Regions from separate parts of the Homo sapiens genome. Here regions 1, 2 and 3 are each linked to region 4. The links come from fine-mapping of genetic effects on gene expression. A gene starts in region 4. Each other region holds a variant in brackets. All regions are shown on one strand. Distances are between the middles of the regions. Region 1 has its middle 16 kb from the start of LINC00895. Region 2 has its middle 13 kb from the start of LINC00895. Region 3 overlaps HIRA (histone cell cycle regulator). Region 4 holds the start of CLDN5 (claudin 5).

Region 1 (7,796 bases), 59 kb before region 4:
AGATGGTGTCTCCCTGTGTCGCCTAGGCTGGAGTGCAGTGGTGCAATCTCTGCTCACTGCAACCTCTGCCTCTGGGGTTCAAGTGATTCTCATGCCTCAGCCTCCCGAATAGGTGGGATTACAGGTGTGAGCCACCACACCCGGATAATTTTTGTATTTTTAAGTAGAGACGGGGTTTCGCCATGTTGGGCCAGGCTGGTCTTGAACTTCTGACCTCAAGTGATCTGCCCACCTCGGCCTCCCAAAGTGCTGGGATTACAGGCATGAGCCACCATGCCAGGCCTAGAGGGTCTAATTGAACTGGTTAACAAAAGCCACCTATAGACAGCAAAACTAAAAGAGCAAACAGTAGCACATGCCCACTGGGTCCTGGCTGTAAACATTAACCCCTAGACATTGCCCTGGGGCCGGAGCCCCACAGCCTGCCCATCTGTATGCTCCCCTAGCGGTTTGAGCAGTGGGGCACTGAAGAAGCGAACCACACCCCCATCGCCTGCCCTGCGAGGGGGACACGGGAACTTTTCCTGTTTCAGCACCACTGCACTCCAGCCTGGGCAATAGAGGGAGACTCTGTCTCAAAACAAAAACAAAAACAAAAACAAAACACAAAAAAACACAACTGGGTGCGGTGGCTCATGCCTGTAATCCCAGCACTTTGGGCCAAGGCAGGCAGATTGCTTGTGCCCAGGAGTTAGACAGCAGTCTTGGCAACATAACAAAACCCCATCTCTACAAAAAATACAAAAATTAGCTGGGTGTGGTGGCATGAGTGTGTAGTCTCAGCTACTCAGGAGGCTGAGGTAGGAGGATTGTTTGAGCCCAGGAGGTACGTGTTGCAGTGAGCTCAGGTCACACCACTGCAATCCAGCCTGGGTGACAGAATGAGACCCTGCCTCAAAAAAAAAGAAAAAGAAAAGAAAAGTTAAAAAAAGAAATTTTGTTTTTAGGAAGTGGATGCACATGATGAAAAAATTCAAAAGCTACAAAAGAGTGAAAGTAATGATAGATCTTTACAAAAATCCTGGATGCATTTATTTATAAGCATGTATGTAAATAGATCCTTTAACAGTGGTAGCACTCTCCTATTCACAACAGCAAAGATATGGAATCAAACTGTGTCCACTGACAGATGAAGAAATAAAGAAAATGTGAGATAGATATATATATATATATATATATATATATATAAATATATATATAATGGAATTCTATTCAGCCATAAGATGAATGAAATCGTCATTTGCAGCAGCATGGATGGAACCGATGATCATAACGTTAAGTGAAATAGGCCAAGCACAGAAAGACAGCTACCATATGTTCTCACTCATATGTGGGAGCTAAAAAGTTGATGTCATGGAGGGAGAGAATAGAATGATAGATACCAGAGGCTGGGAAGCATGTGTGGGTGGGAGGAGGATAAAGAGAAGTTGGCTAATGGGTACAAACATATGGTTAGGTAGAAGAAATAAGCCCTAACATTCCATAGCAGGGTAGTAGGGTATCTGTAGCTGGCAACAATGTATTGCATATTTCAGAGCAGCTAGAAGAGAGGACTTGAAATGCTACTGATGCAGGGCAGGTTCTTGGCTTCCTCAGGAAGGAATTCAAGAGCAAGCTGGTAGTGGAAGAAAACAGCTTTCTTGCGGTGGAGGCAGTGCTATAGCTCTGGCTGGCTGCCCCTGCAGAGCAGAGCTACCCCATAGGCAGTGTGCTGAGGGTCGCAGCCTAGGGGCAGTTTTGCAGTCATATCTTATACCCACTTTTAGTGCCATGCTAATTAAGGGGCAGGTTATTCAGAAACAGCTAGAAAATGGGTGGTAAGTTTTGGGTGTTGCTATGGCAATAGTAAACTGTCATGGCACTGGTGGGCATGTCTTATGGAGAGGTCCTTTGTGCACTTCTTCCTAGTTTTGGCCAGTCCTCAATCTGGTCCGGAGTTGAGTCTCGCCTGCCTCCTACCTCATTACAAACACTTAGAAATAAATACTCAAGGCCGGGCACGGTGGCTCACACCTGTAATCCCAGCACTTTGGGAGGCCGAGGCAGGCAGATCACGAGGTCAGGAGATCAACACCATCCTGGTTAACACAGTGAAACCCCGTCTCTACTAAAAAATACAAAAAAAAAAAAAAAAATTAGCCGGGCGTGGTGGCGGGCGCCTGTAGTCCCAGCTACTCGGGAGGCTGAGGCAGGAGAATGGCGTGAACCCGGGAGGCAGAGCTTGCATTGAGCCAAGATCGTGCCACTGCACTCCAGCCTGGGTGACAGAGCAAGACTCCCTCTCAAAAAAAAAAAAAAAAGAAAAAAGAAAGAAACACTCAAGGTGATGGATACCTCAGATACTCTCAGTTGATCATTACATATTCTGTAATGTGTAATGTAACAACTACTCCATGTACCACATAAACATGTAAAAATTTATCAATAAAAAGTAGCAACTTATATGCACTATTCTGTATCTTCTGTAGCTCCCTATTCTTTCTGATATAAACTATGGTTATTTCAGAAAATGCAGAATAACTACACTGTACATCAGTGTTTTACCTCAGTTAAAGGATTTTTAAAAATCAATATTATTGATGTACAGCTTGCATACGAGAGAGTGCACACATCTTAAGTATACAGCTTAGGCCGGGCATGGTGGCTCACGCCTGTAATCCCAGCACTTTGGGAGGCCGAGGTGGGCAGATCATGAGGTCAGGAGATCGAGACCATCCTGGCTAACATGGTGAAACCCCGTCTCTACTAAAAATACAAAAACAAAATTAGCCGGGTGTGGTGGCCCATGCCTGTAGTCCCAGCTATTTGGGAGCCTCAGGCAGGAGAATGGCGTGAACCCGGGAGGCGGAGCTTGCAGTGAGCCAAGACGTGCCACTGCACTCCATCCTGGGTGACAGAGTGAGACTCTGTCTCAAAAAAAAAAATAAAAGTATACAGCTCAATGCATGTAGACAAATGTGTATACCTGTGTAAGTAACCATCATCACAGTCAAAACCAAGAACATCCCATCACTCCAGAAGCTTCCCTCATGACTCCTCCTGGTCACACCAGGACCCAGGGAACCACCCATCTGTGTTCCATCATTCTAGATGAGATCTGTCCTTTCTAGAGTTTTCTATAAAAGGAATCACAGTGCATACTGTTTTGTCCAGCTTCTTTCATTCAACATAAGTCCTGTGAGATTCATCCACTTGTTGTACCATCAGTTTTCTGCTCTTTATTGATAGTGTTTTCCTACTTTTTTTGTGTTAATATGGAGGATTATATTGATTTTTAAATGTTAAGCTGATGTTGCATTACTGGGATAAACTCTACTTGTCCATGGCCTATCCTTTTTTTTGTTGCTAGATTCAACTGACTTTTTTTTTTTTCAGACAGGGTCTCACTCTGACACCCATGCTGGAGTGCAGTGACGCGATCTCTGCTCACTGCAGCCTTGACCTCCCAGGCTTCAGTGATCCTCCCACCTCAGCCTCCCAAGCAGCTGGGACCACAGGTGTACACCACCACACATGGCTAATTTTTTGGATTTTTTGTAGAGTCAGGGTTTCACCACGTTGCCCAGGCTGGTCTTCATCTCCTGAGCTCAAGCGATCTGCCTGCCTCGGCCTCCCAAAGTGCTGGGATTACAGTCGTGAGCCACTGTGCCCAACTCAATTGGCTAGTTTTTGTCGTTGTTGTTGTTTTTTTTTTTTTGTCATGATGGAGTTTTGTTCTTGTCGCCCAGGCTAGAGTGCAATGGCGTGATCTCGGCTTACTACAACATCCACCTCCCGGGTTCAAGCAATTCTTCTGCTTTAGCCTACCAAGTAGCCGGGATTACAGGTATGCACCACCACACCTTGCTAATTTTTGTATTTTTGGTAGAGACAGGTTTTTGCCATGTTGGCCAAGCTGATCTCAAACTCCTGACCTCAAGTGATCTGCCTACCTTGGCCTCCCAAAGTGCTGGGATTACAGGTGTGAGCCACCGCACCCAGGCAGTATTCTGCATTCTTAAACTGATTTTCTGCCTCCTTGTTCTGTCATTTACTGAGAGAGAAGTGTGGAAATCTCTAGCTATAACTGCGCATTTGTCTATTTGTTCTCTTGGTTCTGTCAGTTTTTGCTCTGTATTGGGTGCATACATATTTAGGATCATAATGTCTTCTTGATGACTTGACCACTTTATCCGCATAAAACAGTCCTCCCTATCTCTAGGAACAGTCCTGTTCTGAGTCTGCTTTGCCGGATGCCATTCCAGTATTCTCATAACTCA[C/T]GTTCACATGATCTTGTTCCATTCCTTTACTAACTCCTGCATTTTTAATTGTGGTAAAATATACACAGCACAAAAGGATCCTTTTTTTTGAGACGGAGTCTCACTCTGTCACCAGGCTGGAGTGCAGTGGTGCCATCTCGGCTCACCGCAACCTCCGACTCCCTGGTTCAAGCGATTTTCCTGCCTCAGCCCCCGAGTAGCGGGGATTACAGGCACGTGCCACCATGCCCAGCTAATTTTTGTATGTTTAGTAGAGATGGGGTTCACCATGTTGGCCAGGCTGGTCTTGATCTCTTGACCTCGCGATCCATCTGCCTCGGCCTCCTAAAGTTCTGGGATTACAGGCATGAGCCACCGCGCCTGGCCAAAAGGATCATTTTAATCATTTTAATTGTACAGTTCTGTGGCAGTAAGCACATTCACAATGTTGTACAACCATCAGTATCATCCATCTCCAGAACTTTGTTGTCATCCCAAACTGTAAGTCTATACTAATTCAATAATAACTTCCCATTCCCTGCTTCCCCACCCTCTGGTAACCACTATTCTAATTTCTGTCTCTATGAATTTGATTACCTTATATAAGAGATACCTCATATAAGTGAAATCAGACAATATTTGTCTTTTTGTGACTGGCTTATTTCACCGGGCATGGCTTCAACATTCATCCATGTAGTAACATGTGTCAGAATTCCTTCTTCTTTTTTTTTTTTTGAGACAGAATCTTGCTCTGTCACCCAGGCTGGAGTGCAGTAGCATGATCTTGGCTTGCTGCAACCTCTGCCTCCTGGGTTCAAGCAATTCTCTGCCTCAGCCTCCTGAGTAGCTGGGATTACAGGCACCTGCCACCACACCCAGCTAATTTTTGTATTTTTAGTAGAGACAGGGTTTCACCATCTTGGCCAGGCTGGTCTTGAACTCCTGACCTCGTGATCCACCCGCCTCGGCCTCCCAAAGTGCTGGGATTACACACATGAGCCACCGTGACCGGCCAGAGTTCCTTCTTTAAGGCTGGATAATATTCCATTGTCCATGTCTGTAGACCACATTGCTTATCCATTTATCTGTCGGTGCATGTTTGAATTGTTTCTACCTTTTAGCTAGCGTGAATGATGCTGCTGTGAACATCGATGCACAAGTGTCTTGAGTCCCTGCTTTCAATTCTTTTCAGTGCATGCCTATTCTGGGCGTGGAATTCCTAGACCACACGGTAATTCTGATTCACTTTTTTTTTTTTTTTTTTTGAGACGGAGTCTTGCTCTTTAGCCCAGGCTGGACTGCAGTGGCGCTATCTCGGCTCACTGCAAACTCCACCTCCCGGGTTCACGCCATTCTCCTGCCTCAGCCTCCCGAGTAGCTGGGACTACAGGCGCCCACCACCACGCCCAGCTAATTTTTTTATTTTTAGTAGAAATGGGGTTTCACCGTGTTAGCCAGGATGGTCTTGATCTCCGGACCTCGTGATCTGCCCACCTCGGCCTCCCAAAGTGCTGGGATTACAGGCGTGAGCCACCGCGCCTGGCCTCTGATTCACTTTTTGAGGAAATACCAAACTTTTCCACGGTGGCAGCACCATTTTACATTCCCACCAACAGTAAACCAACGTTCAATTTCTCCACATCTTCACGTTCTTTACATCCTTGCCAATGCTTTTATTTTCTGTTGTTGGTTTTGCTTGGCTTTTTTTGATAATAGCCATCCTAATGCCTGTGATTTGCATTTCCCTAATAACCAGTGATGTTGGGCATCTTTTCATGTACTTCTTGGCCACTTGTATGTCTTCTTTGGAGAAATGTCTATTCAAGTCCTCTGTCTATTTCTTATTTTTTGTTGTTGAGTAAAGTTATGACTTTTCAAAACGTATTTTACCTTGATTTGTTTTGCCACCTATGATGTTTTATTTTGAACTTTAGAAGTGGAAAGAAACTAATAAGTCATATTTAAAGCCATGTTGTTCTTCCAGTCAGCACCATAATTCTTAACAAGAAAACTTGACATTTCATTTAAGTGATTAAATGTATAGAGGTTGGAGATTTGCATTTTCCTCTATAATCCATATAATAATCCATGGAAAATCTTTTCCAATAGTTAACAATGCAGCAGAAAACAGCCCATACATAACGACAAAATGAAAACTCCCAGATCATTTGCATCCTGCCAGAATCTTAGCTTCCCTCGCATTACTGCTATTCATGACCTCAAGCCACACGTTCTTATAAGGATGTGACCCCAACTTTGATAGTAAATGAATGGTTATCAGATCGAGGTCTCTCTCTTCCTCTCACAGCTTCAAAACAGTGACAGGAAATGGGAAAAGGGAAAACACCTCAGAGTTTGCAAACGGGTGACTGTGTGCCTCAGCAGCACAGGAAGGAAATGACCACGGGACACCTGTGCAGTGGCTAGAGCCAGGCCGGCCTCATTCGATGTCATGTGACGGGTGGAGATGGGGGAGCTGTGACAGCGGCAAGCACATCCCGGCCAGGCCCGGGAGAACATGGGCTCCACCAGCTCACCCCCTCCACAGCCTTTCCTTCAGAAGCCTCGCTGTGGACACAGACTGAAACAGGCCGTGTGGTGGTGGGAGGGGTGTCATTATATTATTCTATTTGTGTGTACATTTGTGTGTTTTCATAATGAAGTTGGTATTTTTAAAAAAGAAGCCTCTCCTCCCTTTTTTCTCCTTGGTATTTTAAACCATCCAAATATTAAGAATGCTCTCTAAAGACAATCAAAACAGCAAGCATCTCAACAGTAATAACTTCACCCCACTGAGCTGAATTAGGCCAGCAAAGGTCTCAGAAATGAACTCTCTACCTTCGTTCACTCAACACATCTTTGACCTTTGGGAAAGTACCCCGTGCCAGTGTGCCAGGCCCTCTTTTACCTCCAAAGAGCAGTGGAGACTGGGCGTCCTACTGGGCAGTAGATGTGGGCAGAGCCCCACAAAGAGCAGAGTCTGGCAAGGGGGGTCCAGGCCAGCTGGGGCAGAGGCCTTGCAGGCACTGGGACAGACTGTGGCCTGCACACAGGGAAATGGGACCCTGCCTGCACACAGGGCTGACTCACCACACACCAGCCACAGTTTGCTATATGACCAGAGGGTAAAGAGAGACCCCACCCAACTGGGGCCTTCAGGCACCAACTAGAGGACAGGAAGAACCCAGCTGGAGGCCCTCTTGCCTCAGCCAACAGGCGCCAGTGGTGAGCACAAGGAAGACAGAACACAGGCCATCCCCAGGGTGGGGACAAGGAGGAGGAAGCTCAGCCTCCAGCCCCAGGGACAGGGCCCCTTGAGACCCCAGGAGGGAGTGACCTAGTCTCAGGGTCCCTTTTCTTCCCAATTCCAGCAGTGTCAGAACTGCCAGGTACAAGAAAGAGCCACGCAGTCCTCTGGGCAGCAGAAACCCGAGGCTCAGTGAGAGCAGTGACCCAGGAGAGCCAGCTTTCCACGCGCAGGCTGGAGCCACTCGCTCCTTCTGGCCACACATAAGTTACTGAGCATCTGCTCACCAACAGCTTCCTTTTGTTAGGAAG
Region 2 (7,796 bases), 30 kb before region 4:
GTAAAACCCCATCTCTATTAAAAATACAAAAATTAGCTGGGCGTGGTGATGCATGCCTGTAATCCCAGCTACTCAGGGGGCTGAGGCAGGAGAATTGCTTGAACCAGGGAGGCAGAGGTAGCAGTGAGCTTAGATGGCACCATTGCACTCTAGCCAAGGCGACAGAGCGAGACTATCTCAAAAAAATAAAAACAAAATAAGCCTCTCCAAATTGTGATTCAATTAAGACCACAAATCTAGAACCTGAGAGCATTGTTTCTTGCCCATAATTTTCTGCACCCTCATCTCTTCTTTACTTTGGATTGCATTTCGCACCCTCCACCTTCATCAGGTCAGTCCCTCAGTGCGTTTTCTACTTTGCCCCAGTTGCGATGGAGCGCTCCTTGTTTCTGTGATCATATTGACATGGAGGTTTCCCAGGCTCTGCCTCCACACTCTCATCACCTGCCCTGCCAGGATCACCCTGCACCATCCCATCGCTATGAAATGCCACCTTTACCACCCGAACTGGGCTTTGTTGTTGTTGTTAGAGACAACATCTCACTCTGTCGCCCAGACTAGAGTGTAGTGGCTTGACCATAGCTCACTGCAGCCTCGAATTGCTGGGCTCAAGTGATCCTCCCACCTTGGCCTCCCAAAGTGCTAGGATGTATTAAGTTGCTAAATTTATGATAATTTGTATGTCAGCCATAGAAAACCAGTACACATACTTTTGAGAAGAAGGAGGTGTGTGTTTTTGCCCATTCCTTTGGTGCGTCCACACTGTTGTGGAATGTCCTGCCTCTTCATTTTGACCACCAGTTACTATGATTTGGAGACTAGTAGGTCATACTAACTTGGGTACTTGTCACTATTTGTTTTGTTGGAATTGCTGAGGACATGTCGGTGTCTATTAATTTCACTCTGTCTCTTGCAGTTATAATGACAGTCTGTTGTAGGTACCTGAGGTATGTGGGTACACATTTTCATTCTCTCATTCAGCAAATATGCACTGGAATTAGGAGTCTCGCACTTTACTGGCCCCTGCAGCTGCAGAGATGACTGGTCACATTGTCATGGATGAAGGTAACGGCAGAGTAGCGAGGGGCTGTGAACCCCCACTGGAGCTGACTGCCCGCCTAGATCCTGACTCTGCCACTCTCAAGTCCCGTGATGTGTCTCTGTGCCTTCCTTTCCACAGGGGTACATGGATGGCTGGGGCTGCGGGGTAGCGTTGTGTGTGTGCATCCCTGGGAACCATGCCTGGCACTCAGCAGGTGCCAGGTGATGGTACCTGTTGCTACCATCATTGTGACTTCACTGGCTGGGAACTAACACCAACTAAGACAGGAGTTCTTTTTAAAGAGCATAGTGTTCATCTTGTGGACTGGGACCTGTCATGGCCTCCTTGGTGGGGTCAAATCTGGTGTTGCCTGTGGGGTTCCCTGGGCCTCCTAGAGCTGGTTTCAGAAGGCCTGCAGGGCCAGAGGCAAGATGGGCCCAGGTGGGGCATGTCACATCATTATATTTTCTGCCTGTTACAGCAAAGGATATGCCACCACCCTCCTGTGTCTGAAGCTTGCCCAGCCAGCAGGTCCAGCTCCAGTGCTGCGTCATGTGAAAGCCTTCCCCACTATCATGGCCTGCCCTGGATTCTCATGGAATTGTGAGAAAACCTCCAAACACTAACTCCCTACCAAGTCAGCCACTCAGCACATCAGAGTAGTGTCACCTCGGGCTGGGACTGTCCAGAACGCTGGAGTCCCACAGCCTCACTTCCCACTAACAGCTGCTTCCCTCCTCATCCTTGCCCACATGGATTCCAGGCACGGTGGAGTGGAGGAGAACGTCCCATGCTAATGCAGGACACCTTGAGAGAGGAACATCTCCACCGTGGGAGGGACAATGAGTCTCTGGCACTGGGGCTTTGGCCTGAACAGTCTGGATCACCTTCACCCAGAAAACAGCCCCCCAGAGCCCAGGGGTCGGGGGAGCCACATTCCCCCACAGTTCAGAGGGCACACTGTCACATGCCCATCCCTCCCTCAGAATCAGCCATCCCCACTTGGTTGTTCCAGACCTCTGGTTCCTGCTGGGCAGCCCTTCTGCCCAGACCTCTGAAACAGTTGGCAGATGAATTCATGGTATAAGCTAAGCCTGAGGCCAGCTTCCAAGCAAAGTGTTTTAGATTTATGCTTATTTATTTTATTTTATTTTTTAAAGACAGAGTCTCACTCTGTCACCCAGGCTGGAGTGCAGTGGCACGATCTCGGCTCACTGCAACCTCCGCCTCCCTGGCTCAAGCAATTCTCCTGCCTCAGCCTCCCCAGTAGCTGGGACTACAGGCACACGCCGCCACGCTGGCTAATTTCTTTTGTACTTCAGTAGAGACGGGGTGTCACCGTGTTCCCCAGGCTGGTCTCGAACTCTTGAGCTCAAGCAATCTGCCTGCCTTGGCCTCCCAAAGTGCTGGGATTACAGGCATGAGTCATCCTGCCCGGCCTATGCTTATGTTTTTAAGCTCCAAAGACTACTGGTTCTGGGAAGGACTGGGTCACTATGTGACCTTGTGTAGGTCTCTTTTGGCCCTGAGTCCAGGAGGGCTCTGTGACTCCAGGTTGTGGCTGCGTCTGGAAGCTAACAATTGTTTAGTTTACAGTGTCCTTCCTCTTCATCTTGTTTGCATTCAGTTGCCCATGCCTGCCTCTGGGGGGAGGTGGGAAGGAATGTGGCTCCTGGGAGGAGCCCAGCTCCATGTGCCATTCTGAGGAGCCAGGCTGCACGCCCCTGGGCCATAGCTGCTGGTGGATGGATGAGTACACTGGCAGAGGCACTGGGAAGGGAAGACAGAATTGTTGGCCAATAGTCCCCTTTTACTGATTTTCTTGTCATTTTTGTGTTTGTTTTATTATAAAGATAACAGCTGTATTTGAGAAAGAAAGCTCAAACTATAAAGAAAATTTAAAATTGCCCTGTCTTACTCCAACTCCATTCCCTGAAGGTGGCCTGTCTTAACTATTTTTGTTTCTAATTCTTACAGTGGTTGCCTTCGTAATTCTAAAGCATACAACCCACATCTTGATTTCTCAACTGTGTAGTTTCTTTTGGCTCTATTGTATGAAATCAATGTGAAGTTAACATATTTAGACAACCTCTCCTCCTCTCAACCTCTCAATTTGTTCATTACTTTTAGATCTTGTAATCCAGTGCTTTCAAAATGCAGGTTCCCAGGCCGCAGACAAACTCATTGGAATTTGTGGTGGGACCTAGGAATGTGTATTTATAATAGTCTCCCCTAGTTAATTGTGTTCACTAAAGTTTGAAAACCATCATCCTTATAACTAAATAAGTGTCTTAGGAGTTGGGGCATTTTTGTCTGCCCTATCAGAAACCCAGCTAAGGAAGGACATCAGTGAAGATGGAGGATGAAGAAATACAAATTTCACCCCTCCACAAAAAACAATGAAAAAAGGGAAAAAACTCAAAAATCAACTTTTTAAAAATAGCTCTGGACATTAAAAGGCTTGCAGCAGGCCAGGCATGGTGGCTCATGCCTGTTATCCCAGCACTTTGGGAGGCCGAGTCGGGTGGATTACTTGAGATCAGGAGTTCGAGACCAGCCTTATAGTGAAATCCAGTATCTACTAAAAATACAAAAAACAAAACAAAACAAAGAAAACAAACAAACAGAAAACAGGCATGGTGGTGCATGCCTGTAACCCCAGCTACTTGGGAAGCTGAGGTAGGAGAATCGCTTGAACCAGGAGGCAGAGGTTGCAATGAGCTGAGATCATGCCTCTGCACTCCAGCCTGGGCAACAGGGCAAGACTCTATCTCAAAAAAAAAAAAAAAAAAAAAAGGGCAAGCAAACAAAAAAAGGTTTGTAGCAACATGAGGAAAACATTCAAGAGAAATGCCTCATTCTTAGTAAGAAATAAAGGCTGAAATCTTCCCAAATTTGATGAATTTGGAGTTACTAGTTAAAAAAAAAAAGAAAGAAAGTTCTAGCAAGAAAAGCCTAGGATCAGACGGCTTTACTGGCAAATTCCACCAAATGTTTAAAGAGGGGTTAACACCAGTACTTCTCAGATGTGTCCAAAAAACAGAAGAGGAGGGAACACTTACTGACTTATGCTG[T/C]GAAGCCCGACAAAGACATCACAATAAAAAATACAGACCAATATCCCTTATAAATTTGGATTCAAAAATCCTTAACAAACAACTAACAAACCAAATTCAGCAACATGTTAAAGGATTGTACACCATGACCAAGTAGGATCTATCCCAGGAATGCAAGGTTGGTTTAAAACACAGAACCTAATCAATGTAATACATCATATTAATAGAATAAAGGGACAGAACCACAAGGTCATCTAAATAGGCACAAAAGAATTTGACAAAAACCTTTAACAGGCAGGGTGTGGTGGTTCGTTCATGCCTGTAATCCCAGCACTTTGAGAGGCCAAGGCGGGTGGATCACCCGAGGTCACAAGTTTGAGACCAGCGTGACCAACATGGTGAAACCCCATCTCTACTAAAAATACAAAAAATTAGTGGGGCGTGGTGGCGGGTGCCTGTAATCCCAGCTACTCAAGAGGCTGAGGCAGGAGAATCACTTGAAATGGGGAGGCAGAGGTTGCAGTGAGCCGAGATCACACACTCCAGCCTGGGCAACAAGAGTGAAACTCCATCTCAAAAAAAAAAAAAAAAAAAAAAAATTTAACAAAGTCAGGATACCCTTTAGTGATAAAAATCATGCACTAAACTAGGAATAGGAGGGAACTCGCACAGTCTGATAAAGGGAATCTGTGAAAAGCCCACAGCTAATATCATACTTAATGGTAAAAAACTGAAAGCCTTACCCCTGAGATTAGGAACAAGACAAAGATGGCCACTCTTGCCACTTACTTAACATTGTACTAGAAATTCTAGGCTGGGCAACTAGACAAGAAAAAATAACAAAAAGCCATCTAGATTGGAGAGAAAGAAGTAAAACTCCATTTGCAGATGACATGATCTTGTATAAAGAATACCCTAAAGAAACTGGGCATGGTGGCTTATGCCTTTAATACCAGCACTTTGGGAGGTTGAGGTGGGTGGATTGCTTGAGCCCAGGAGTTCAAGACCAGCCCAGGCAACCTGGCAAAACCCCATCTCTACAAAAAATTAGCTGGGCATGGTGGCACACACCTGTAGTTCTAGCTACTCAGGAGACTGAGGTGGGAGGATCACCTGAGCCTGGAAGATTAAGGCCACAGTGAGCCATGATCATGCCACTGCACTCCAGCCTGGGTGGCAGAGTGAGACCCTGTCAAAACAAAACCAAACAAAACCCTAAAGAATCTGCACAAAAACTGGTAGAGCTAATAAGTGAGTTTAGTAAAGTTGCAGGATACAAGATTAATATACAAAACCAGTTGCATTTCTATCTACTGGCAATGAACAATTTGAAAATCAAATTAAGAAAATACAGCATCAAAAGAATAGTCTTGAAATACTTAGAAATAAATTTAATTTAAAAAGTGCAAGGCTGCTATAAAAAATCTACAAGACATTGTTGAAAGAAAATGGAAAGATATTCTATATTCGTGGACTAGAAAACTTAACATTAAGATCTTCAGATTTAATGCAATACCTATCAAAGTTTCAACAGCTTTTTTTTTTTTTCCAGAAATGGACAAGCTGATTCTAAAATTCATATGGAACTGCAAGGGACACAGAAAGAACCAAAGCAGTCTTGGACAAGAACAATGTTAGAAGACTCACTTCTCCATTTCAAAACTTACTACAAAACTATAGTAATCGACCAGGTGCGGTGGCTCACGCCTGTAATCCCAGCATTTTGGGAGGCCAAGGTGGGCAGATCACTTGAGGTCAGGAGTTTGAGACCAGCTTGGCCAACATGGTGAAACCCCATCTCAACTAAAAAGACAAAAAAATTAGCTGGACATGGTGGTGGGCGCCTATAATCTCAGCTACTCAGGAGGCTGATGCAGAAGAATGGCGTGAACCCGGGAGGCAGAGGTTGCAGTGAGCCAAGATCATGCCGTTGCACTCCAGCCTGGGCAACAGAGCGAGACTCTGTCTCAAAAAAAAAAAAAAAAAAAGTTCATAACAGCACTATTCACAATAGCCCAAAAATGGAAACAACACAAATGACCACCAACAGGTAAATGGATAAACAGAATAAAGGAATATTATTTAGCGTCACAGATAATGAGGTGTTGAATGAGGCTACAGCGCGGATGAACCTGGAAACACTGTGCTAAGAGAAAGACGCCCGACACAAAAGCCCACATACTGTGTGATTCCAGTTTTATGAAATGTCCAGAATAGGCAAATCTACGGAGAGAAAGATGCCAGACACAAAAGCCCACATGCTGTGTGATTCCGGTTCTATGAAATGTCCAGAACAGGCAAATCCATGGAGAGAAAGACGCCAGACACAAAAGCCCACATGCTGTGTGATTCCGGTTCTATGAAATGTCCAGAATAGGAAAATCTACGGAGAGAAAGATGCCAGACACAAAAGCCCACATGCTGTGTGATTCCAGTTCTATGAAATGTCCAGAACAGGCAAATCCACGAAGACAGAAAGTAGATTGGTGGATACCTAGGGCATGGGGTGGGGAGAAGTGGAGAATAACTGCCAACAGATTTGTGGTTTCTCTTGGGGAAATGGAAATGTTCTGGAATTACACCGTGGCGATGCATGTACAGCATAGTGAATATACTAAAGCCACTGAAGTATAAACTTTAAAGTGATTAATTTTATGTTATGTGAATTGTATCTCAATAAAAAATGTTTTAAAAAGGAAAGAAACAGCTGGGCATGGTGGCTCATGCCTATAATCCCAGCACTTTGGGAGGCCGATGTGGGAGGATCACTTGAGACCAGGAGTTCTAAACTAGCCGGGGTGACCATAGCACGACCTCGTCTCTACAAAAGAAAAATTTAAAAATTCACCAGGTGTGGTGGCACGTTCTTGTAGTCCAAACTACTCAGGAGGCTGAAGGAGGAGGATCGCTTGAGCCCAGGAGTTTGAGACTGCAGTGAGCTATGATTACACCACTGCACTGCAGCCTGGGTGACAGAGTGACACCCTGTCTAAAAAAAAAAAAAAGGAAAAAAATCCAACTAGAACGGTCTTAATATAGCAATTTATTGGCTCATGCCAGTGGATGTTCAGAGGTAAGGCAGGCTCCAGGGCTGTTCAGCTTACAGGCTTTACAGAACCATCATAGAGGCTGGACGCAGTGGCTCATGCCTGTAATTCCAGCACTTTGGAAGGCTGAGGTAGGCAGATCACCTGAGGTCAGGAGTTCAAGACCAGCCTGGCCAACATGGTGAAACCCCATCTCTACTAAAAATATAAAAATTAGCTGGGGCCAGGCGCAGTAGCTCACACCTGTAATCACAGAACTTTGGGAGCCTGAGGCGGGCAGATCACCTGAGGTCAGGAGTTTGAGACCAGCCTGGCCAACATGGTGAAACCCCATCTCTACTAAAAATACAAAAAAATTAGCTGGGCGTGGTGGTGGGCGCTTGTAATCCCAGCTACTTGGGAGACTGAGGCAGGAGAATCGCTCGAACCCAAGATGCAGAGGTTGCAGTGAGCTGAGATCGTACCATTGCACTCCAGCCTGGGCTACAAGAGCAAAACTCTGTCTCAAAAAACAAACAAACAAAAACTGTGATAGAAACCTGAGTACCTTCCATTGCTCCACCCCTCAGCTTTATCCTAAGGCTGGTTCCCTTAGTGATGGAAGGATGGCTGCCAAGCAATAGGAGTGCGGAGTTTCCCTCTTCGTGTGTTGGT
Region 3 (7,465 bases), 190 kb after region 4:
TCTTTAAGCCAGCAATTGTGCGTGTAGTTCTTCACAAACTTCAAATCCCTCTCATGAGTCACTTTTTTTTTGCCACTTTCAAGATTGTCTCTTTTGAGAATTATAAAGTATCTAAGAATAAATCTAACAAAGGATGTACATAGCCTATATGCTAAGAATTATAAACGTTTACTTAAAGTCATTAAAGAAAACCTGGACAAACGATGAGAAAGTGCAGTACAGTAAAAGACGCCAACCGTTTCTAAACAGACCTACTGACTCAATGCCTCTCTAATCAAATGCCCACTAGAGGTTTCAATGAAACTTGACAAGCTAATTCAACAATTTATATGGAGCAGTAAAAAGCCAAGAATAGTTAAGACATTCACTATGCTACCAGATATTTGGGTTTATTATGAAGCCGGAGTAATTTAGATACTTTGCTATATGAGAGAGAAGACAAAACAGATACAGTGGGAAAAATAGGGGGGGCTATTCAATAAATGGAGTTTAGGAAACTGGTTATTTATATGTAACTAAGTAAAAGCAGATCTTCAGTTCATAAAAATATACCTCCAAAGGGTTAAGAATTAAATGTCAAAAGTGTTCATCTAAATGTCAAAATGTAAAAAAGTTCTCGTTCGGCGCGGTGGCTCACGCCTGTAATCCCAGCACTTTGGGAGGCCGAGGTGGACAGATCACTTGAGGCCAGGAGTTCAAGACCAGCCTGGCCAACGTGGCGAAACCCCATCTCTACTAGAAATACAAAAATTAGCCGGGTGTGGTGGCACATGCCTGTAGTCCCAGCTACTCAGGAGGCGAAGACACAAGAATTGCTTGAACCTGAGAGGCAGAGGTTGCAGTGAGCCAAGATCACGCCACTGCACTCCAGCCTGGGCAACAGAGCGCAAGACCCTGTCTCAAAAAAAAAAAAAGTCAAAAAGTTCTGCCTTTTTAAGCCAAATAATGAAAATGTAGTTTGTAATTATAACATATGTAGAAGTGAAGTGGCATGACAGCAGTATCACAGACGCCAGGAGTGGGGATATGAAAGTATACCATTAAAAGATTTTTACACATTATGCAAAGTGATATAATACTTGAAGACAGACTATGATAAGTAAAGGCATATACTGTATGTTATATGCCCTAGAGCAACCACCAAAACCAAAAAATAAAACTCATGCACATACACATACAAATCCCAAAGCAGTAAAAAGAATCGTAGCTAAAAAACTAACAAATAGATAAAATTGAATGATAGAAAATAATACATTCATTCAAAAGAAGGCAGAAAAACATACATAGGATGGTAGATTTAAACCCTAATATATCAATAATCATTAAATATAGGTCTAAAAGGCATAGATTATCAGATTAGAATTAATAACAACCAGCTGTATGCTGCTTATAAGAAACCCAGCTTACATGTAATAACACAATGGCTTAAAAGTAAAAGGACTGCCGGGTGCGTTGGTTCATGCCTTAATCCCAGCACTTTGGGAGGCCAAGGCAGGTGGATCACCTGAGGTCAGGACTGGCTAATTTTAGTATTTTTAGTGGAGATGGGGTTTCGCCATGTTGGCCAGACTGGTCTCGAACTCCTGACCTCAAGTGATCCAGCCGCCTCAGCCTCCCAAAGTGCTGGGATTATAGGCGTGAGCCACCGCGCCTGGCCTAATTTTTGTATTTTTAGTGGAGATGGGGTTTCGCCATGTTGGCCAGACTGGTCTCGAACTCCTGGCCTCAAGCGATCTGCCCGCCTTGGCCTCCCAAAGTGCTGAGATTACAGGCATGAGCCACTGTGCCCATCAGACATAAGACTTTAAAATAAATGTCTTAAAAAATGCTCAAGGAGAATACAGACAACTAAACAAAATCAGGAAAACTATATATGAAGAAAATGAGGGCCGGGTGCAGTGGCTCATGCCTGTAATCCCAGCACTTTGGGAGGCCAAGGCGGGCGGATCACAAGGTCAGGAGATCGAGACCATCCTTGCTAACATGGTGGAACCCCATCTCTACTAAAAATACAAAAAAATTAGCCAGGCGTGCTGGCCGGCGCCTGTAGTCCCAGCTACTCGGGAGGCTGAGGCAGGAGAATGGTGTGAACCCAGGAGGCGGAGCTTGCAGTGAGCCGAGATCACACCACTGCACTCCAGCCTGGGCGACAGATCGAGGCTCCATCTCAAGAAAAAAAAAAAGAAAATGAGAGTATCAACAAGGAGATAGAAATTCCAAAAAAAGAGCTAAACAGAAATCTGGAGTTTAAAAATACAATAACTGAATTGAAAAGTTCACTAGAAGGGTTCAACAGCAGACTCGAATAGACAAAAGGGTAAATCAGCAAACTTGAAAACAGGTCATTTGAAATTATCAAGTATGAGGAGCAAAAAGAAAATAGAATGAAGAAAAGCAAACAGAGTCTAAGAGACTTACCAGACACCATCCAAGTATACCCATGAATCCATAATGGGAGTTCTAGAAGTGTAAGAGAGAGAAAGGAGTAGAGAGCTTATTTGAAGAAATACTGGCGGAAATTTTCCAAATTTGAGGAAAGACGGGGGTCTACTAATACAAGAGCCTCAGTGAACTCTAAGTAGGAAAATCCCAAAGGAACCTGCACTGAGACACATTAGTCAAACTGTGGGAAAGGAAAGACAAAGAAAATCTCATCCTTGATGTCAGTTTTAAAATAGTATTCCTGATGTTTTCTTTATGGTAATAATTAACTTTTCCTTTCTATTTCTTTTTGAGCTAGTTTTGATAAATTATATTTTTCTAGGAATTTCTCCATTTTCTCTAAATGTTCAAATTTCTTAGCATAAAGTTGATAGTAATCATATCTTTTTCTTTCTTCT[A/G]TATCTGTAGTTATGTCTCTTTTTATTTCTAATATTATTTCTTTAAGCTTTCTCTCTCTTTCTTGATTAATCCTGCCAGACGTTTGTCCATTAGTCTTTTCAAGAAATGACTTTTGCCAGGCATAGTGGCTCACGCCTTTAATCCCAGCACTTTGGGAGAACAAGGCAGGAAGATCACTTGAGCTCAGGAGTTTGAGATCAGCCTGGCCAACAAGGTGAAACCCCGCTCTACTAAATATATAAAAATTAGCCAGACATGGTGGCACACACCTATAGTCCCAGCTACTCGGGTAACTGAGGCAGGAGGATCACTTGAGCCTGGGAGGTTGAGGCTGCAGCGAGCTGTGATTGCACCACTACGCTCCAGCCTGGGCAACAGAGCTAGACCCTGTCTCAAAAAAATATATAAAATAAAATTGTTTTTCTAAATCTTCTCTATTAAATCTTTGTTTTCTATTTTATTTATTTCAATTTTTATTATCTCCTTTTTTTAAAAAAAATGTTTTTTTCTCATGTCCTTTTTTTCTTTAGTCTTTTTTTTTTTCCTTTCCCCTGATGGCTTTAGGTTGGAGTCTTGGCTTGTCATTCTTTCATGTTCTCTAATACAGTATAAGCTGTTGTTTCTAAATGCCTCTAAAGTGCCCACTTTTGCTGAATCTTACCACTTTTGGAGTATTTTGTGTTGGTTTTTTTTTTTTACCATTCTCTTGCAAGTCATTTTTAATTTCACTTAATTAGAATTCCCCTTTGACCTATGAGTTTTACTCAATTATTTTAGTTAGAAAACATGATCTATTTTAGGAGTTGACAAACTTTTCTGTAAAGGACCAGATAGTAAACATTTCAGCCTTTGCAAATCCATACCATCTCTGTTCTGACTATGGCACTCTGGTGTCAGAGCCTCCCTGTTGGAGTGTGGGCTGCTCCTCCATCAAACTTGGTCGCCAACAGCAGCCATTCTCCTGCTTATCCCATCTCTAACAACTTCTGTGTTACTCAAACCTAATAGTTACACTTATTCTTTACTGTCACTTCTAGACTTGTTGCAGGTATATCTGTCACCGTTAATTCAAGATCTTAGACCTTCTCGTCCAGTGTTAAAGTTGTCTGGCTGGTAGTTTTCCCTTTGGAGCAGCCGTACTGCTCAGGAGTCTGCTCTTTTGGTCTGTGCAGCAGAGACCCCAACTGGCAATGCTTGTTTCAGACTGTGGTGCCAATATGACCTGACGTGGAGGATGTTTAGGCAACTAAGCATAGTTTGGTCAGCATCCGAACATCCTCCACATCAGGGGATACTGGCACCTCATTTGTGTTGCTGGAAAACTAAAGCCAGTCACTGCCCCCCAGGTGCATCCTTGCCCTGGGGCTTGACCTCAAACCCCTGGCAAACATCAGCATGAGGGAACAGCCCCTCCTGAATGGCCAGCCACCTGACCCTCAGCCTTGTTCTACTCTCATCCTGCCCTGGATGGTCAGGGAACTGCTCAGTCACTATAAGGTCAGCAGTGGCTGTGCCCACGGATGGAGGAGCAGACCCTGCATTGGCCTCATCCTCCTTTATCCCCACACTGTGTTGCTCCCATTCCACCTGCCACTTCATCCTGCACATTTGCCCCACAGCTCTCTCACAGTTTCTCACCTGCAGAGGAATTGTTCTTTCCTTCTCCCGTGAGCAGACACAAGGTTCTCTGCCAGGCCAGGAAAGTCCCCACAATCTAGGTCTCTTCACTGACACTTGCACTCAGCTGTCACTCTGTGTCCACAGGGTCTGCGGAAGAGGGAGCTGCTGAAGGAGCTGCTACCAGTCATCGGGCAGAACCTCCGATTCCAGCGCCTCTTCACCGAGTGTCAGGAACAGCTCGACATCCTGAGGGACAAGTAGCCTGCCCCAGCCTGCCCTGGCTGCAGCAAGGGCAGGGCCACACTCTCGCCGCTGATGACATGCAGGACCGCCTCTCACCTGACCAGGCTGTAGGGGGAGGAGACACTGGCAGGAGATGTGCTGTCCTGCACCAGCGCCAGCCCAGCTCCCTGGGCAGATGTGCCCTGTGTCCTGGGTCTGACATTGCCTCAGGAGGGGGAAGCTCATCCCTCCCTCCAAGCCCCCGATGCGGAGCTAGGGCTGGAGCTCTGCCCAGGTGCCCTGGGGCCAGCAAGGCAGTCCCAGGCCTGCCGTCTCCAGCACGGCCCCAAGGTGGACACTAGCCCCTGCTGCTGCAGGCACCATGCTGCTTCAGCAGTGACGATTGAGCCATTTGTGAGAGAGAATCCGGAAGCGTTAGGTATTACAGCAGACTGACCTAAGACCTATGTAAAAGGAAAGCTGTTCCAACACACGGACTATTTTTGTACTAGAATTTGCTAACTTGTAATATTGAATTTCCTTTGGCCGATAATCAGGATTTCCCTATAAGTCACTTGGACATTGGTCACTTGTAGGAAATTTAAACTCTAATTATGACAGCTACACTGAAAAATAATTGTACTGAAATTAACTTGTCTATCTTCATTTGGTTTTAATTTTTAAATGTTTGTAAAAAGAGACTGTTTTGGGGGAATGGGGCAAAGGGGTGGGCGATTTCTTTTGTAAGTGTAAAATAAATGAACACGCATTGAATACCAAACCCTCCTGATTTCTCTTGCCTTTTCCTTCTAACTTTCATCCTCCCCACACAGTGCATCTCTCTCCTGAAGTAGATGGTGACAGAACATGAGAGCCAGAAGGGATCCTTTGTGTCATCTCATTCCCCCCTGTCATGGTTAATACTGCGTGTCAACTTGATTGGATTGAAGGATGCAATATTGATCCTGGATGTGTCTGTGAGGGTGTTGCCAAAGGAGATTAACATTTGAGTCAGGCTGGGGAAGGCAGACCCACTCTTAATCAGGTGGGCACCATCTAATCAGCTGCCAACGAATATAAAGCAGGCAGAAAAATGTGAAGAGATGAGACTTGCTTAGCCTCCCAGCCTACATCTTTCTCCCGTGCTGGATGCTTCCTGCCCTCAAACATCGGACTCCCAAGTTCTTCAATTTTGGGACTCGAACTGGCTCTCCTTGCTCCTCAGCTTGCAGATGGCCTATTGTGGGACCTTGTGATTGTGTAAGTTAATACTTAATAAACTTTCATATATATCTATTAGTTCTGTCCCTGTAGAGAACCCTAATATACCCCCCATGCAGAAATTCATTTCACAGTGTAGAGTGGTCACTTCTGTGGTCATGAAGCACCATAGGTCACCTTGCACACGTCATCTCACAAGTGAGGAGTCATGGTTCATGGTGGTTCATGGTTCTGGTCTTGCTGTGCCCCAGGTCCAGATCATACTGTGCACCAAGGGCTGCAGCTGTTTGGACAATTTCATGAAAGGAAATCAGTATTTACAGTCTTGGGTATATTGGAGAATTATCAGCAAAGTTGGAATTTTATTAGAAAGTGATCCAGACGTTGATCTACAGGAGAAGAAACAGAATCACAGAATCTTTAAGCACAGTGAGGGCTGAGTACCACCCACTCCTGGGTCCTGATCTTTGTCACCACCACCCAGTGTGTGGGTCTGAGCCTGGAGAAGGAGCCTTGGACTTGGAGTCAGAGGCCGGGGTAACTGACCACTGATCTCTGGCCTAGCAGCCATTCCACTCCATGTCTCACTCGGATGTCAAGTGGCTGGATGAGACCCAGGCATGTGTTCATGCCAAATAAAGCCAGGATAGTTTGTGTGAGTGTGTGTGTGTGTACACATAAAAAGCCAGGCTGCAAGTGGGACTCTTAAGGAATGAAGAGCCAGAGACTTGCTGTGCAGGTGAGGCAGCTCCCTTAGCAACTATGCAGCAAGACATTGCGAGCTTTGTGGAGCTCCAGGAAGCAATATATGCCAACAGGCCTGTCTGGGCTCCAAACCAGCAAACATCTGGGCCTCAGTTTTTTAGCTGTCAAATAGAGATTGAGACTAAAAAAATCTGCACTGGGGTCGGGCACAGTGGCTCACACCTATAATCCCAGCACTCTGGGAGGCCAAGGTGGGCAGATCACGAGGTCAGGAGTTCGAGCCAGCCTGACCAACATGATGAAACCCCCGTCTCTACTAAAAATACAAAAATTAGCTGGGTGTGGTGGCACACACCTGTAATCCCAGCTACTCGGGAGGCTGAGGCAGGAGAATTGCTTGAACCCGGGAGGCAGAGGTTGCAGTGAGCCAAGATCGCGCCACTGCACTCCAGCCTCGGCAACAGAGCAAGACTCCGTCTCAAAAAAAAAAAAAAAAAAAAAAATCTGCAACGTTATGAGGACAAATTGAGATTGTGTGGGCAAAGTCTTCGCACGTTTCCTCCCTTGAAGGAAACAGCAGTCGTGAGTGACTTTACCACCACCGTTTGGAGATGATGAAGAGATAAGCAGAAAACATCAAGGCCTTCAACTTACAGACAAGATGGAGTAACAGGGACCAGGTTGACCCTTCTACCTGAAACAACCAAAGGAGCCCGTCAAAAATACATGCAATGGTGGTTTCAAGACACTGGATACCATGCTGGGCACAGTAGCATGCGCTTGGAGACCTAGCTACATGGGAGGCTGAGGTGGGAGGACCATTTGAGGCCAGGAGTTCAAGGCTGCAATTAGCCAT
Region 4 (6,890 bases):
GGGTAGAAACCAGATTGTGAAAGGTGAAGCCTGAGACTCCTCTGCCACGTCCCTGAGATGCTGTGAGGCTGCCGCCAAAGAAACATGAGCTTGCTGGGGCCACCCTAGGGTGACAGCTAGGAGAGAAGAAAAACAGGCAGCCAGGTGAGAAGGGAGAGCCTTGGGCTGGCTGCAGCTCCAAGCTGGCTAGAGGGCAACAGGCAGCCTCCTGTGCAGGACAGACGCATGAAGACAGCCACCCTGTGGAGGTTATTCCTGGATACTAGGTGGGAAAGTCGGCAAGCAAAAGGACAGGTCCAGCTCAAGCTTCTAAAAGCAATGCTGGGGGACGGTGCAGCAAGGTGTTCCTGGAAATGACCTCGGCAACACATCTTAGAAGATGAGCAGGACCCAACCTGACAGATACACGCTGCGGGCAGAAGAGGCCAAGGTAAGAGACGGCCCATGTGAGGCCCATAGGCAGGTAAGTCTCCTGGGGCAGAGTGTGTGCTCAGGGCCGCACCAAGACTGGTGGCTGGACTGGCCAGTCCTAGCGCATGCAGGTACACATCAATCCAGCTGCTCTGGGAGTCGGCTCTTCGTCCATGGGCAATGTGAGCCATGGAGGGTCTTAGGTAGGGTGAGGCCCAGGAGAGGGGCCTGGTGGGGTGGGTGGCCTAGCTGGGCAAGGGCAGGTCCCTGATGACCTGAGGAGGCCGCAGCAGTCATCCCAGGAAGATGGTGGCATGGAAGGGCTGGGAGTAGGGGGATCTGGGGAAGTTCCCTGGGCTTGGGTTAGGGGGTAGTAAGAGTGAGAGGGTGGGTGGGTCAGCTGTACCCCTGGAGTACACAGAGGAGGAGATGTCCAGGAGGGTCTGTAGAGGAAGGGGCATGGCCCATGGGTCTGCAGCAGGAGGAAGGCAGTGACTAAAGTGATAGCTGGGAGAAGGCAGTGGTCCTCAGAGCCATACCTGGTGGGGAGAGGCCACGTGGGGCTGAGCAAAGAGGGTATGATTTCCTTCCAGCCTCAGGGCTGGGCACACTTGCCTTCAGAACCTCCCCACACTAGGTGAGCCAGACGCTGGCCTTATCTCATTTACCATCTCAGAGCCATCTGAAGGGGGAGAAGGGAACCGGGCCCCAGGAGGGAGAAAGTCATCAAACCTCCCACATCTGTGACCAGCCTCAGTGCCATACTTTTTCTATGGAGGGCCCTGTCCAATGGAACTGAGCACAGACCAGATAAAAGAACTGGGCACCCAGTGGCCTCAGTCCAGGGCCTGGAGTTCAAACTTTACTGGAAACAAAGGGGCCGAGAGAGACTGGGGAAAGAACTACTAGAAAGGGGCTGGTGCCCCCATGGGGCTGTGGGTTTTGGAGCCGCGTGCCCCCACCTGAGCCTCAGGGGGCCCGGAGTGTCCACACCAGTGGACCTTTCGAGAAATGGCTGGGCCATTGTGCAGAAGAATGCCCGGAAATCCCGCGCCTCCCTCCTCCAGCAAGGATGGGGGCTCTTCCTCCTGGCCAGGAAACTCCAAGTTGGCTTCCGGAGGGTGGCCTGGGGGCTGGGGTGCCAGGGACACCATCGCCACTGGTGGGAGGGCAGGGCACAGCCCCTCCGTGTCCCTTTGTCTCTCCTGTCTGAAGGCCAGAGCAGGCTGCTAGGCCTGGGGCCACCACTGCCCCTGGGTGCTACACCCAGTGTGCTGGGTCACTGGGAACTTCCTGAAGTGGTGTCACCTGAACTGGGCCCCCAAGGATGGGGTGCGGGCAGTACCGCAGGAAGAGGAGCAGCCCCTGTGAAGATTGAGAGGTCTGGGAAGCCCCTGCGGCTTGGGAGAGTGGGGGTCGCCAGGCAGGGGGAAAGCCCCTGTGCCACCGCTTTTTGCCAGAGACTCAGGCTCCAGAGAGGCAGTGAGTGGCATGGGGGGTGAGGCTGGGGCCCTGGGCCTGACCTCCACACGCCTGCCTGGCCTCTCTGTTTGCCATGGGATGAGAGAGACAGTGCTGGGACTCAGAGCGGGGCTGGAGAGTGAGAGTGCGAGAAAGGGCCTGGGTGGGGCTTGGACCCCGGGGCGGGCTTTCTGGAGAGCCCCCCTACGAGGGCCTCTACGGCGGTGACGGGGTGGGGGGCTTCTGCAAACCTTGGTCAGGGAAGTGGAGCTGGCTCGAGTGGAAGAGACCACCCGGCTCAGTCGGGGATGTGGGAGTGGACTGGGTGGTGCAGACTGGGGGTCGAGCGCCTTCTGAAGTGACGGGGCCGGGACGCGCAGGGAGGCGGCCCAAGAAGCGCGCCCTAGGCCAGCCCAGAATGCGCTCGGCCGCGACTAGGACAACGGCGGGTGGGGCTGGGGGCGGCTGCCGGGCGGGGAGCGGTCCCGCGCCCTCAGCTACCCCTCAAGAGCCGTTGTTTCCCTAACTTCAGCTGCCAGAGGCTCTGTGATTGGCTGCGGCACGATGACCCGCGCACGGATTGGCTGCTTCGGGCCGGGGGGCCGGGCCCGGGGGACAGAATCCGCCCCCGAACCTTCAAAGAGGGTACCCCCCGGCAGGAGCTGGCAGACCCAGGAGGTGCGACAGACCCGCGGGGCAAACGGACTGGGGCCAAGAGCCGGGAGCGCGGGCGCAAAGGCACCAGGGCCCGCCCAGGGCGCCGCGCAGCACGGCCTTGGGGGTTCTGCGGGCCTTCGGGTGCGCGTCTCGCCTCTAGCCATGGGGTCCGCAGCGTTGGAGATCCTGGGCCTGGTGCTGTGCCTGGTGGGCTGGGGGGGTCTGATCCTGGCGTGCGGGCTGCCCATGTGGCAGGTGACCGCCTTCCTGGACCACAACATCGTGACGGCGCAGACCACCTGGAAGGGGCTGTGGATGTCGTGCGTGGTGCAGAGCACCGGGCACATGCAGTGCAAAGTGTACGACTCGGTGCTGGCTCTGAGCACCGAGGTGCAGGCGGCGCGGGCGCTCACCGTGAGCGCCGTGCTGCTGGCGTTCGTTGCGCTCTTCGTGACCCTGGCGGGCGCGCAGTGCACCACCTGCGTGGCCCCGGGCCCGGCCAAGGCGCGTGTGGCCCTCACGGGAGGCGTGCTCTACCTGTTTTGCGGGCTGCTGGCGCTCGTGCCACTCTGCTGGTTCGCCAACATTGTCGTCCGCGAGTTTTACGACCCGTCTGTGCCCGTGTCGCAGAAGTACGAGCTGGGCGCAGCGCTGTACATCGGCTGGGCGGCCACCGCGCTGCTCATGGTAGGCGGCTGCCTCTTGTGCTGCGGCGCCTGGGTCTGCACCGGCCGTCCCGACCTCAGCTTCCCCGTGAAGTACTCAGCGCCGCGGCGGCCCACGGCCACCGGCGACTACGACAAGAAGAACTACGTCTGAGGGCGCTGGGCACGGCCGGGCCCCTCCTGCCAGCCACGCCTGCGAGGCGTTGGATAAGCCTGGGGAGCCCCGCATGGACCGCGGCTTCCGCCGGGTAGCGCGGCGCGCAGGCTCCTCGGAACGTCCGGCTCTGCGCCCCGACGCGGCTCCTGGATCCGCTCCTGCCTGCGCCCGCAGCTGACCTTCTCCTGCCACTAGCCCGGCCCTGCCCTTAACAGACGGAATGAAGTTTCCTTTTCTGTGCGCGGCGCTGTTTCCATAGGCAGAGCGGGTGTCAGACTGAGGATTTCGCTTCCCCTCCAAGACGCTGGGGGTCTTGGCTGCTGCCTTACTTCCCAGAGGCTCCTGCTGACTTCGGAGGGGCGGATGCAGAGCCCAGGGCCCCCACCGGAAGATGTGTACAGCTGGTCTTTACTCCATCGGCAGGGCCCGAGCCCAGGGACCAGTGACTTGGCCTGGACCTCCCGGTCTCACTCCAGCATCTCCCCAGGCAAGGCTTGTGGGCACCGGAGCTTGAGAGAGGGCGGGAGTGGGAAGGCTAAGAATCTGCTTAGTAAATGGTTTGAACTCTCTCCCACCTGTGTCCTGTTCTCTGTCCAGCCATCTTCCGTGTCCAGCAGCCCCATTCATCACCCACCAGCCCCGCCCTCCCAAGGACTCCTGTGGAGACCTCCTCCCAGGGCTGGAGGCTGGGGCTCTTTTCCCCATCCTCCCTGCCACCTTCCCACCAGGTGGGAGACACAGCCACCACTTACTACAGCCCAGAAAGGCGGGATCTGCGGTCAGAAGAGCTGCTGCGTCATGGGGCCCTGGGGCCCGGGATGGGACAGGGGCGGGGGCAGCGGCAGACCCCAGCAGAAGATGCGGGGTGAAGCGCCCTCAACACAGGCTGGTGAGTGGGGGTCCTGCGGTGTGGGAAGTGCTGGGGGTGAGCAGCCAGGCCGCTGGCTTCTCCCAGAAAGGGCCAAGCCCCACACAGCACAGGGTGAGGTTTTCCACTGCCCTCTCAGGGCTTGCCTAGTCCCAAGCCCCATCAAGTGGCCACAGAGGTCTGTAGAATCCCCGACCAGGCCCTTTCCAATGGTGGGTGGGGCAGGAACAGGGGTGAATGCAGGACACGCCGGTCAACAGTAGGGTTGCCATGGGAGGAGGTGCTGGCAGCTGGTTGCCTGGAGTACCACAGCTTGGCTCTAGCCCCTCGTCCTGGCTCCTCTGCCAGTCCCAGCGCAGCTCCCTACAGAGCCTGTACCCACCCTGCTGGCCTGGCAGCCTGCCCAGAATGGTGCTCACAACCAGCACCTGTGCCAGCCCCTGCTGGGGGCACTCTGGGTAACCTTCCTCCTCCAGGGGCTGTGTGGCCTGGGAGTCAGTGCTGGCCCCTGCCAGGCACCTCGGAATGGGGGTGTCTAGAGCCATCTAACATAGCCACTGAGAGCTCACTGTTTTTAGCCTTGTTCTAGGCACTTTGAATTAACACATTTTTGACATTTGACATAAAGCTAGAAGCAGAAGAGAGCAGCTGATGAAGGGGGCATGCTGCAGGGAAGAGCTCTAAGCCCAGCCGGAAGGGAGACTTGGTATCTGCCCCAAACTGGACTTGGGGGCCCTGCCCAGAAATGTCTGGGCCACATCCAGTGGCAGGGAGTCTCCTAGGTCTGGCCAGGCTACCATCATGGAGCAGTGGGAGAACCCCAAGAATGCAGGCTCAGAGTGGCTTAGGGCAGCTGCTGGAATGTGTGGCAGCTTCCTGGGAGCTGCTGTGGAACCAGCCGGTGGGATGAGTTACAGGGAGAGGGGCCCCACGGTGCAGAGGTCCTCAGCAGGCCTGACCTGTACCCCACCTGGGCCTGTACAACAGGGACCAAGAATAGTCCCCAAGCTTGGGAGTGTGTGATCCCAGAGCTGTGGCCCTGGGCAGAGCCAAAAACAATGGTCCTTACACTCTTGCACCTGGCCACCGGGACTGGGTAGTACCAGGTCTGGTGTGTTTGGTCAGAAGCTGAGGCCCAAGGCTGCCTGGGAGGGCATTCCTAAGAAAGCCTTTTCCTAAGAAAGGACAGGCACGGGGCTGGGCACGGTGGCTCACGCCTGTAATCCCAGCACTTTGGAAGGCCGACGTGGGCGGATCACAGGGTCAGGACATCAAGACCATTCTGGCCAACGTGGTGACACCCGTCTGTACTAAAAATACAAAAATTAGCTGGGCGTGGTGGTGTGTGCCTGTAATCCCAGCTACTCGGGAGGCTGAGACAGGAGAACCACTTGAACTCGGGAGGCAGAGGTTGCAGTGTGCCGAGATCGCACCAACTGCACTCTAGTCTGGTGACAGAGCGAGACTCTGTCTCAAAAAAAGGAAAGAAAGGGCATGGAAAGGAAGCTGCACAGCCTTTGAATTTTCCCAAATGGCCAGGGTAGGCAGCTCAAGGGTCCCGGGAAGCTGTGCAAACCACCAGAGGTGAGGGGAGGGGCCCAGCCTCCAGTCCAGCTCTCACCCTTTTGTGCCCACTGCCCTTTGCCAAGGGCTGCACCAAGACCAGCCCCACCTACCTGTGTGCTCTTTTCCAGGCCACTCTTTCTGAGCTTTTCCCCACTGACTTAAAACCTACCCAAATCACTCCTGCCTTCAAAGACCTGGAAAAGAGTGCTGGATGGTGAGACCCACAGGTGGAGGGATGGCTGAGAGGGTGGACTTGCTATGTGGCTGAGGCCAGGTGGACCAGAGGAAGTGGTAGGTGGACAGAGCCAGGTGCTGGCTGGCACCACCAGGCAGTGGCCGGTGCAGGTGCTATGAGGAGGCGGGGATGCCGAGGGGTCCTGACCTCTGTCCACTGCCACCCGGAGGGCCTGGAGGACAGAGTAAGGAGATCTTGTCCTTGGGGCCAATCCCCATGCTGATTTCCTGCCAGGCACTGAGGGCTCCTGGGGCCCAAGACCCACAGAAGGCTCAGAGCACACTCAAGCACTGGCCTCGAGACCAGAGCCACAATGGGGACGGAGCCTAAAATAAGCATTTTATTTAATAAAAAATGGCTTCTACATCTCAAATCATGTCCATAACTTACAATCTAAATGAAAGCCAGTTACATAAATAAGAAGGTCATTCTGGAAGAATCAAATTCTAGAAAACAAAACAAGAAAAAACAAGTTTCAAACGATGTTGATGTGCCACCGAATTGAAGAAACTGCCCAGGCGTCCCCTCTGGGTAGTGCTGCTGAGTAGCCAGGACTGCTTGTGGGGGTGAGGCCACCCCAGACTCGGAGGCCCCTGCTGTCCTCATAGCACCCCTTGACTGGGCTGAGCTGTCCTACATCAGAGCTCCTGCCCCCTGGCCCGGGCACCTTCTTACCTCACGGACCCCGCCCAGCTGCTCAGCCAGCCCCCTGGCACCCTCCCATGGGGGCTCTCCCTCCATCCCTCGGCACTCTGCTGCTCAGCCCTCCTAGCCCAGGCCACCTGTGCCCCTGCCTCAGTGGAAGGACACACAGCAGCATAACATCACCACCAAGCAGGCTGCAGGGGAGGGGTTTGCCTCTAGCACCCA

The links. PIP is the estimated chance that this variant, and not a neighbour inherited with it, causes the effect.
Region 1: its variant is the best candidate, but not a certain one, in a credible set for the expression of CLDN5 in whole blood (TOPMed, PIP 0.65).
Region 2: its variant is the best candidate, but not a certain one, in a credible set for the expression of CLDN5 in whole blood (TOPMed, PIP 0.54).
Region 3: its variant is the best candidate, but not a certain one, in a credible set for the expression of CLDN5 in whole blood (INTERVAL, PIP 0.78).

The regions. Positions count from the first base shown.
Region 1 is chr22:19,578,936-19,586,731 of GRCh38, reverse strand. No RefSeq gene overlaps it. Among named protein-coding and RNA genes, the nearest start is that of LINC00895, 16 kb to the right of the region's middle. The variant C/T (reference allele first, on the strand shown) is at 4,260.
Region 2 is chr22:19,549,846-19,557,641 of GRCh38, reverse strand. No RefSeq gene overlaps it. Among named protein-coding and RNA genes, the nearest start is that of LINC00895, 13 kb to the left of the region's middle. RefSeq lists enhancers at 1,592-2,294, 2,295-2,997 and a silencer at 2,582-2,876. The variant T/C (reference allele first, on the strand shown) is at 4,117.
Region 3 is chr22:19,328,697-19,336,161 of GRCh38, reverse strand. It overlaps HIRA (histone cell cycle regulator), which reads left to right. Exons shown (of 25, transcript NM_003325.4): 25 at 4,606-5,464. The coding sequence ends at 4,722. It overlaps LOC105372859 (a long non-coding RNA gene), which reads right to left. Exons shown (of 6, transcript XR_938002.3): 3 at 6,082-6,187; 4 at 4,480-4,608; 5 at 2,419-2,460. Among named protein-coding and RNA genes, the nearest start is that of CLTCL1, 41 kb to the right of the region's middle. The variant A/G (reference allele first, on the strand shown) is at 2,841.
Region 4 is chr22:19,520,057-19,526,946 of GRCh38, reverse strand. It overlaps CLDN5 (claudin 5), which reads left to right and starts at 2,537. Exons shown (of 1, transcript NM_001363066.2): 1 at 2,537-3,920. The coding sequence starts at 2,692. The coding sequence ends at 3,348. It overlaps CDC45 (cell division cycle 45), which reads right to left. Exons shown (of 19, transcript NM_003504.5): 19 at 6,339-6,466. RefSeq lists an enhancer at 3,922-4,854.